3 separate regions of the Homo sapiens genome follow, and regions 2 and 3 are each linked to region 1. Evidence: fine-mapped expression QTL. A gene starts in region 1. Each other region holds a variant in brackets. All regions are shown on one strand. Distances are between the middles of the regions.

The links. PIP is the estimated chance that this variant, and not a neighbour inherited with it, causes the effect.
Region 2: its variant is the best candidate, but not a certain one, in a credible set for the expression of UBAP2 in whole blood (INTERVAL, PIP 0.90).
Region 3: its variant is the best candidate, but not a certain one, in a credible set for the expression of UBAP2 in whole blood (INTERVAL, PIP 0.85).

What each region holds. Positions count from the first base shown.
Region 1 is chr9:34,047,539-34,050,302 of GRCh38, reverse strand. UBAP2 (ubiquitin associated protein 2) reads left to right here and starts at 1,416. Exons shown (of 29, transcript NM_001370062.2): 1 at 1,416-1,478. It also overlaps the pseudogene RN7SKP114. RefSeq lists enhancers at 1-593, 784-1,313, 594-1,449, 1,450-2,306 and silencers at 1,344-1,433, 1,584-1,633.
Region 2 is chr9:33,777,507-33,780,270 of GRCh38, reverse strand. The region is part of intron 3 of UBE2R2-AS1 (UBE2R2 antisense RNA 1); the gene reads left to right. It also overlaps a transcript of PRSS3 not described here. Among named protein-coding and RNA genes, the nearest start is that of PRSS3, 17 kb to the left of the region's middle. RefSeq lists an enhancer at 1,129-1,188. The variant A/T (reference allele first, on the strand shown) is at 1,573.
Region 3 is chr9:33,820,480-33,823,243 of GRCh38, reverse strand. All of the region lies in intron 1 of UBE2R2 (ubiquitin conjugating enzyme E2 R2), which reads right to left. Among named protein-coding and RNA genes, the nearest start is that of UBE2R2-AS1, 3.0 kb to the right of the region's middle. The variant G/A (reference allele first, on the strand shown) is at 1,084.

The sequences.
Region 1 (2,764 bases):
TATTACAGAGGAAAGCTCCAATTGAGATAAGGCATGCCGGGACTGCAAAGTCCTTGTATGTAACTAGCTTGGGATAAAACAGGCCAGTAAGTAGACCTTGAGAGCTTGTTTAGAGGACCTTGAGAGCTTGTTAACACGGGCGTGCAGCTACTCCTATATCCTTGACTTGTCCTCTTCTATGGGGGATGCTCCTCCTTTTCGACCGAATATGCAGCTTCGGGAGGGACGCACATGGAGAGGTGCGGGAGGAAGGGGCCACCCGCCTAGACAGCCAGATCAGCCGAATCAGCCCTGGCGATCTATGGGGTGACAAGATAGCCAGAACGCCCTCACATCCAAACAGGCCAGTAAATGGAAAATACTTTAAAACACCATGCTACAATTATAAACCATCATCTTATTTATTCGTAATTCTTGGAGTTGACAACAGGTCAGATCCTATTGAGAGGAGGTCATTAATTTTCTAAAGACAGAAAACCTGGGTCTCTTCGGTCAACAAACAACTCTAAGGTTCTTTTTTTAAATCCTTAAATAGGGAAAATCCTGGACTCAAGGAGTTGATTATATGATATAACAGAAATAAACGGCTGACTTGGAGTAGGCGTTCAGTAGATTCTAGTCTTTTCACCCAGAAGGGGCTTGGGAGGGCAAAAGTAAAACCGCACTGAAAAAGACTAAAAGTGGGCGCACCTTCCGCCTTGCCGAGGCTCTCGCTGCTAGCCGTTGGCGTTTTCCCGCGCAGGGGGCAGGGCGCAGAGCGAGCCCAGGAACGTGGGAGCGGAACCCCACCCCCCGCCAGGACTACACCTCCCAGCAGGCACCACGCTCCGCCACATGGCGGGCGGCATCCAATGGTATTAGTCCTTCAAGCCAGCTTAGTCCGCTTTCCGTCCCGGCCTTCCCTCGGCTCTAAGGTCTCTAGGGGGTTCGTCTAGAAGCCCGCTGGAGAAAGGCTGCGGTAGGGGTCGCCTTGGCTGTGCAGCATGTTGGGAGTCGTGGTCCCCTCGTGCAACATTTGGGAGGCCAGGCTTGCCCTGAGTGGTTGGACCACATCACGTGATGAGCACAGGGCGGCCACAGGGGAGTAACCTGTGGTGCTTTGTGAGGTCATCACGGCGCGACGACGAGCTGCAGTTGTGGGCACCTTGTATGCGGTGGGTAATACTCTCCTGATGACTCCGAGTACAATACATATTATCAAGTCTCCCTTATTTGTTCCTTTCTGTGGTCCCCACCTCCACGCGGTTGGCTTCGCGGGGTTGGGGTGGAGGTGGTGGCTGGAAGAGGCCGCGCGCCGCCTAGGCTGACTCTGAAGCCGCGCACGAGCGACGTGTTGTGGCTCCTCCTTCGCCCGTGACGCGAGGTCACGTGACGGGTTGGGCAGCCTGTGCCGCCGCCGCCGCTTTGTAAGAGGCACATTGGCAGGTAACGAGCGGCGGCGGCGGCAGCGGGTCTTGGGTCCTCCGAGAGCAGCAGCGGTAATTGCCATCCTCTCCCTCTCCTTCCCTCTTCCAGGGCCCTGAGCGCTGCAGCGTGTGCTTTCTAATTCTGGGTTCAGCTCGTCTGAAACCCCACCGCCTGCAGACTGCCCCGGCGCCCACCCGTGAGGACCGGGCCGAGCTTCACTCGCCAGGTCCACGGTCCCTCTACGTCCAGGCCCGGGCTCCCTCCTTCCTCTTCCCCTCACGTTGCCCTGTGCTTCTTCCTACTTTCCCCCGTCCAGGTCGGCTGGGCCCCACCCAGCCCCAGGGGTGCCTCCCCTCCCCCCTTTCGGGTTTCTGCCCTGGAGGGTGTGGTTTTCTCTCCCACCTCGGTGCCTGCCAGTAGACTGGAGCTTCCCCGCCACGCTGTCGGTCCCATCTCATCACCTTTCCGCTTTCACGCCCGTAGCTAGTCTTGGGACTGGCCCTGTTATAGCCCCAACTTATGCGCTCTCTAACCTTTCCTGGCTTACCCGGAGTCACAGTTCAGTTCTACTTCTTTTCAATTCTGTAGGGCATTGGTCTCAATTGGGACTCAGTTTTCCTCCACACCCGCCGTTCCTGTAGTCTGGTTATATCACAGTTCATTATTTAATGTAGGTTTTTGAGCGCTTTGTAAACGGCAAAGCTCTCTCTGTTAATAATACATACTCAAAATGTTATTCTTTCATTGGTGCATTACAACTCAGTTGTTTGCCTCTGAATCACTTTCCCACTCGGCTTTTCCACATTTTCCCCTGAGTTTTTAGTCTAATTAGTTGCCCACGCATCTCAACTGTCACCACTCTGGTCTCTAATGCTTGCTCGCTTTAGGGGTTGATCCCATCATTATTACTGTTATTTCCTGTTTGATGTAATCCAGTCATTTACTACCACTTCTATTGGATATTGTTTTTACCTCACATTCAAGGAAGGTATATGGTTTGCCAGTATTTAGGCTTATTGTCTTTCTACAGCACCAGTGTATCCTAACAGTTGAGAGATTTTAAAAAATTACTATTAATTTTAGAGATATGGTCTCCATATGTTGCCCAGGCTGGCCTCCAGCTCCTGGGTTTAAGCGATTCTTTCACCTCAGCCTCCTGAGTATCTGGGATTACAGTGTGCACCACGGTGCTCAGCTAGTTGAGGGTTTTTTCAGGTCTCCATAAGGTATCCAAAGATTATCTTTTATTTGAAGGGCATATAATTTCTTGGGTGAACCCAGTTCTTATATTCCTCTTCCGTTGTGACAGCACTTTTTTCAACAAGGGGTATGCGACTAGTTATTGCATTCCTCACTT
Region 2 (2,764 bases), 270 kb after region 1:
ATGCTGAAAATAGTCTCCCAATCTCTTCTGGCGTATAAGTTTTCTGCTGAGAAGTCTGTGGCTAGCCTGATGGGGTTTCCTCTGTATGTGACTTGACCCTTCACTCTAGCTGCCTTTAGAATTTTTTTTTCTTTTACCTTGACCTTGGTGAATCTGACGACTATGTGTCTTGGGGATAGTTGTCTTATATAGTAACTAGCCAGGGTTCTCTGTATTTCTTGGAATTGAATTTCAACCTCTCTGGCAAGATTAGGCAATTTTTTTGGTGTTTTTCAAATACATTTTTGAAATTGCTTACTCTTTCTCCTCCTATTTCAGGAATGCCAATGAGTCATAGATTTTATATCTTTACATAATCCTATATTTGTTAGAGGTTTTTTTTTTTTTTTTTTTTTTTTTTTTTAGACAGAGTCTCGCTCTGTCACCCAGGCTGGAGTGCAGTGGCGCTATCTCGGCTCACCGCAAGCTCCACCTCCCAGGTTCACGCCATTCTCCTGCCTCAGCCTCCCGAGTAGCTGGGATTATAGGTACCTGCCACCATGCCCGGCTAGTTTTTTTATATTTTTAGTAGAGACGGGGTTTCACCATGTTAGCCAGGATGGTCTCGATCTCCTGAACTCGTGATCTGCCGGCCTCGGCCTCCCAGACTGCTGGGATTACAGGCGTGAGCCACCGCGCCCAGCCAGTTTTGTTCATTTTTTAAATTCTTTTGTCTTAATTTTCATCTAAGTTGATTCAAAGAACTGATCTTCAAGCTCTGAGATTCTTTCCTCAGCTTGGTCTGTTCTGCTGTTAATTAATAATTTACAGCAGAATTTACAGCAGAATTGCATTATTAAATTCTAGTAGTAAATTTTTGAGCTCTAGAAGTTTATTCTGATTCTCAAAATGGCTATTTCATCTTTCAGTTCTTGGATCATTTTACCGGGTTACTTGGATTCCTTGGATTGAGTTTCAAATTTCTTCTGAATCTCAATGAGCTTCCTTTCTATCCAGATTCTGAATTTTGTGTTTGTCATTTCAGCTATTTCAGACTGGTTAAGAACCATTTCTAGGGAGCTAGTGATCCATTTGGATGTAAGGGGATGCTGTGGTTTTTTGAATTGCCAGAGTTCTTGTGCTGATTCTTTCTCATCTGATAGGGTTGGTGTTCCTTTAACTGCGGGGTAAGTTGAGTATGGTCAGTTGGATTCATTTCTGGATGCTTTCAGAGGGCCAGGGCTCTGTACAGAATCCGCATATGTGGGTGAATTCTTGCACCTGGTTTCACATCTTGCATATATAATTAGCATGATAATTTTAGTGTGGTAGTTTGTGCCGTGATCCAGTAGATGGCGCTTAAGAGTAATGGCCGATAGCTAGGCTAACACCCAGCTTGTGTGGCTCTTGTACTTTCTTGTTCACAGGCATGCTCTGAGGTGGGTGGGGGAGAGAGATGGCCCCCTCACAAGGTTTGCTCCTAGGACTTGTGGGGAATCACCTCCAATCCCTGGCACTGCACCTGCATTTCTTTTGTTAGGTGTTCCAGGCTGCAGGGGACTCCTGAGGCAGAGGCTGCAACAATCCATGGAC[A/T]TGATTTATACTTCTATATTTTAAAACTGTCTTTCATTTCCTTTAGCAACTATTTTTATTTTTCTGTATACAAGTCTTGCATGCCTTTTGCTAAATTTAAATATTTTGTTTTTAATATAAATTTAGGTTTTAAAATTGAATTATCCAATTGTTTACCATTAGTATACAAAATATAATTTTTATATGTTGTAATAATAAATTAAGGTATGCACTTATTAATTTGAGTAGTTAATGTATAGTTTTTTAAATATTTGGATGTAAGTAGTCCTTTCATCTCTGAAAAAGGTTTTCCTTATCCTTTGATCTTCAGCTTTTTAGTATTTTTCTTGTCTTTATGCATCAGTACAATATGGAATAGAAGTGGTTAAGAGTGAACATTATTGACTTCTTTATGATCTTGAACATGTTTAGTATTTAAGAAATAAAAATGGGAAGACGTTTAATATTTCTCTCATTAAGTGTGACATAAGCTGTTGGTTTCTTTCAGGTGCCTTTATTAGATTGAAGAAGTCCCTTTTTTCAACCTAATTTTCTGAGTGTTTTTATCATAAATGAGTTTGGGATTTTACCAAATTTTTTCTATCTGTAGGTATAATCAAATAGATTTTTTAAAATGTGTTAATAAGATGAGTTACATTGATTGATTTTTTTAATGTTAGACCAAACTGGCTCCTAGAATAGACTCTATTTAAATATTTGAATAATATTTTTGGATTCTGTTTTGATTTTTATTTATTGGCTTTTTGCTATACCTCTTTAATATTTTCAGGGCTATTCTGGAAAATAAAGAATGATACATTTAAAACTATTTGTCTACTTACTGTATTGTAGAAGTTTACTTAAAATATAAGAAATTTGCAACTAATAGATGTTTTTCCTACTCCCGTCCTTTAAGTTTTAGTGTCATTCTGTATTACATATATTTTATATATCCTATAATACAATGATGAAGTTTTTACTTTAACTAGTCTTACTTTTTTTTTTTTTTTTTGAGACGCAGTCTCGCTCTGTCGCCCAGGGTGGAGTGCAGTAGCGCGATCTCGGCTCACTGCAAGCTCCGCCTCCCGGGTTCACGCCATTTTCCTGCCTCAGCCTCCCGAGTAGAGTAGCTGGGACTACAGGTACCCACCACCTCGCCCGGCTAATTTTTTTTTTTTTTTTTTTTTTGGTATTTTTAGTAGAGACGGGGTTT
Region 3 (2,764 bases), 230 kb after region 1:
CAACATAGCGAGACTCTGTCTCTAAAATAATAATAATAGGCTGGGCACACTGGCTCACATCTGTAATCCCAGCACTTTGGGAGGCCAAGGTGGGCAGATCACTTGAGGCCAGGAGTTCAAGACCAGCCTGGCCAACATGGCAAAACCCCATCTCTACTAAAAATTACAAAAATTAGCCAGGCATGGTGGTGCACGCCTGTAATCCCAGCTACTTGGGAGGCTGAGGCACGAGAACTGCTTGAACACAGGAGGTAAAGGTTGCAGTGAGCCGAAATCACACCACTGCAGTCCAGCCTGAGCAACAGAGCGAGACTCAGCTAAAAAAAAAAAAAAAAAATTAATAAGAAGAAGAAAAAGAAAAAAAAGAAATAAAATATCTAAATGACATTGCCAGATCTAGGCTAAGTCTGGTTTGTTTTTTTAGGGGGAAGAGGGAAGGCAGAAAATAGATTCATTCATTGCAAAACAAATGAAGCATAGGAAATAATGCATATTCTCTTATTAAAAAAAAAATTATTTGGCTGGGTGTGGTAGCTCACATCTGTAACACCAGCACTTTGGGAGGCCAAGGTGGGAGGATTGTTTGAAGCCAGGAGTTCGAGACCAGCCTGGCCTATGAGACCCTTTCTGCATAAACAATTTTTTTTTTAAATTAAAACGAGTGTGGTATGCACCTGCAGTCCCAGCTACTCAGGAGGGTGAGGCAAGAGGATCCCTTGAGCCCAAGTGTTTCAGGCTGCAGTGAGCTATGATCACACCACTGCACTCCAGCCTGGGCAACAAAGTGAGACCCTATCTCTTAAAAAAAAAAAAAAAAGGTTTTGAAGAGTTTCTTTAATGTAAGTCAGTGTAGGCCAGGTGTGGTGGCTCAGGCCTGTAATCCCAGCACTTTGGGAGGCTGAGGTGAGCGGGATCACCTGAGGTCAGGAGTTTGAGACCAGCCTAACCAACATGGAGAAACCTCGTCTCTACCAAAAATACAGAATTAGCTGGGCATGGTGGCGCATGCCTGTAATCCCAGCTACTCAGGAGGCTGAGGCAGAAGAATCGCTTGAACCCAGGAGGCGGAGGTTGCAGTGAGCC[G/A]AGATCGCTCCACTGCACTCCAGCCTGGGCAATAAGAGCAAAACTCAGTCTCAAAAAAAAAAAATATATATATATATATGTCAGTGTTGAGTCTAATAAAGATGTTCCTAATAAGGAAAACTTTAAGTATACAACAAATACTTTCTAAATTATCAGACTGGAGTTTTCTAAAAATGGAACACATCTATATTTCATTACCTCAATCAAATTATTTAATAAAATCAAAACTATAAAAGGTTGGCCAGGAGTGGTGGCTCAGGCCTCTAATTAGGATTACATTTTGGGAGGCTGAGATGGGCAGATCACTTAAGGTCAGGGGTTCAAGACCAGCCTGGCCAACATGGTGAAACCCTGTCTCTACTAAAAATACAAAAAGAATTAGCCAGGTTTCATGGCGCACGCCGGTAATCCCAGCTACTCGGGAGGCTGAGGCAAGAGAATCGCTTGAACCCAGGAGGCAGAGGTTGCAGTGAGCTGAGATCGTGCCACTGCACTCCAGCCTGGCAAAAGAGTGAGACTCCATCTCAAAAAAAAAAAAAATTTTTTTTTGTTATGCATATCATAAAAGAGGCACTCTTTCTGGCTCTAGACTCACTGCTATAATGCTTTAGATAAATAATGCAAAAGTTCCAAGGAGGTTCAGTACTAAAGCACCCACACTAAGCTACAATCCTTAGCAGGAGTTATTTGAAAAGATAGTTCCAGCCGGGCATGGTGGCTGACGCCTGTAAAACCAGCACTTTGGGTGGCTGAGAAAGGAGGATCCTTTGAACCCAGGAGTTTGAGACCAGCCTGGACAAAATAGTGAGACCCTACCTCACTTAACAATACTGAAGAAAAAAAAATTAGCCGGGCGTAGTCATGCCTGTAGTCCCAGCTACTCAGGGGGCTGAGGTGGGAGGACTGCTTGAGCCTAGGATGTGGAAGCTGCAGTGAGCCATGATCACACCACTGTACCCCAAACTAAGTGACAGAGAAAGACCCTGAAAAAGTTCCTTTCAAAAGAAAGGGGGTGAACTTGTTAAAAGTCTTCATTAGCTACTGACTTGATCCACAATTTATTTTTCTAGTAACAATAAAATTCCGACTTGCTTAGGTAGCAAAATAAGAAACTACACAAAAAGATAGTAAGGCCAAAAAAGATTGTATAGTATTCAGAATGGACAGAAGAAACTATCTTTGCCCATCCTACATCTATATGGCCCAAAACTAAGAATCACGTGGATTGGCGATATTAAATAAGCGAAAGCAGGATGAATAAAAAAATTCTGTGAAATACAGGTCTCACAAATCTCCAATGCAGATCCTGTGGGTAAGAGACAAGAGCCAACTATTTCAGGGTGAAAAAGATCAGTTAGAAACCTATTAATATATAAAAGTTAAAGGAATTACAGTATGAAAAATGTAAAGAATGACTGGCAGTCCCACTGCCTTCACGAATGACTATGCCAAAAAGGGAAAAGAGTTTAACTTGAAAATAAATTATACTAAATGTTCAAGGACTAACATTTAATAAGGGAGAAGAGTGATATGGTAGGGAAAGCTTTGTGCCAACTTTCAACTGCAGCTGTAGTGAAATACACTAAAAGCCTTGTCTTAAGACAAAAGCAGTAAAATAAAAACAATGGTTTTAAACATATCCCCAGTGTCAACTGCTCATGACCATAAATTTGCCTTTTTC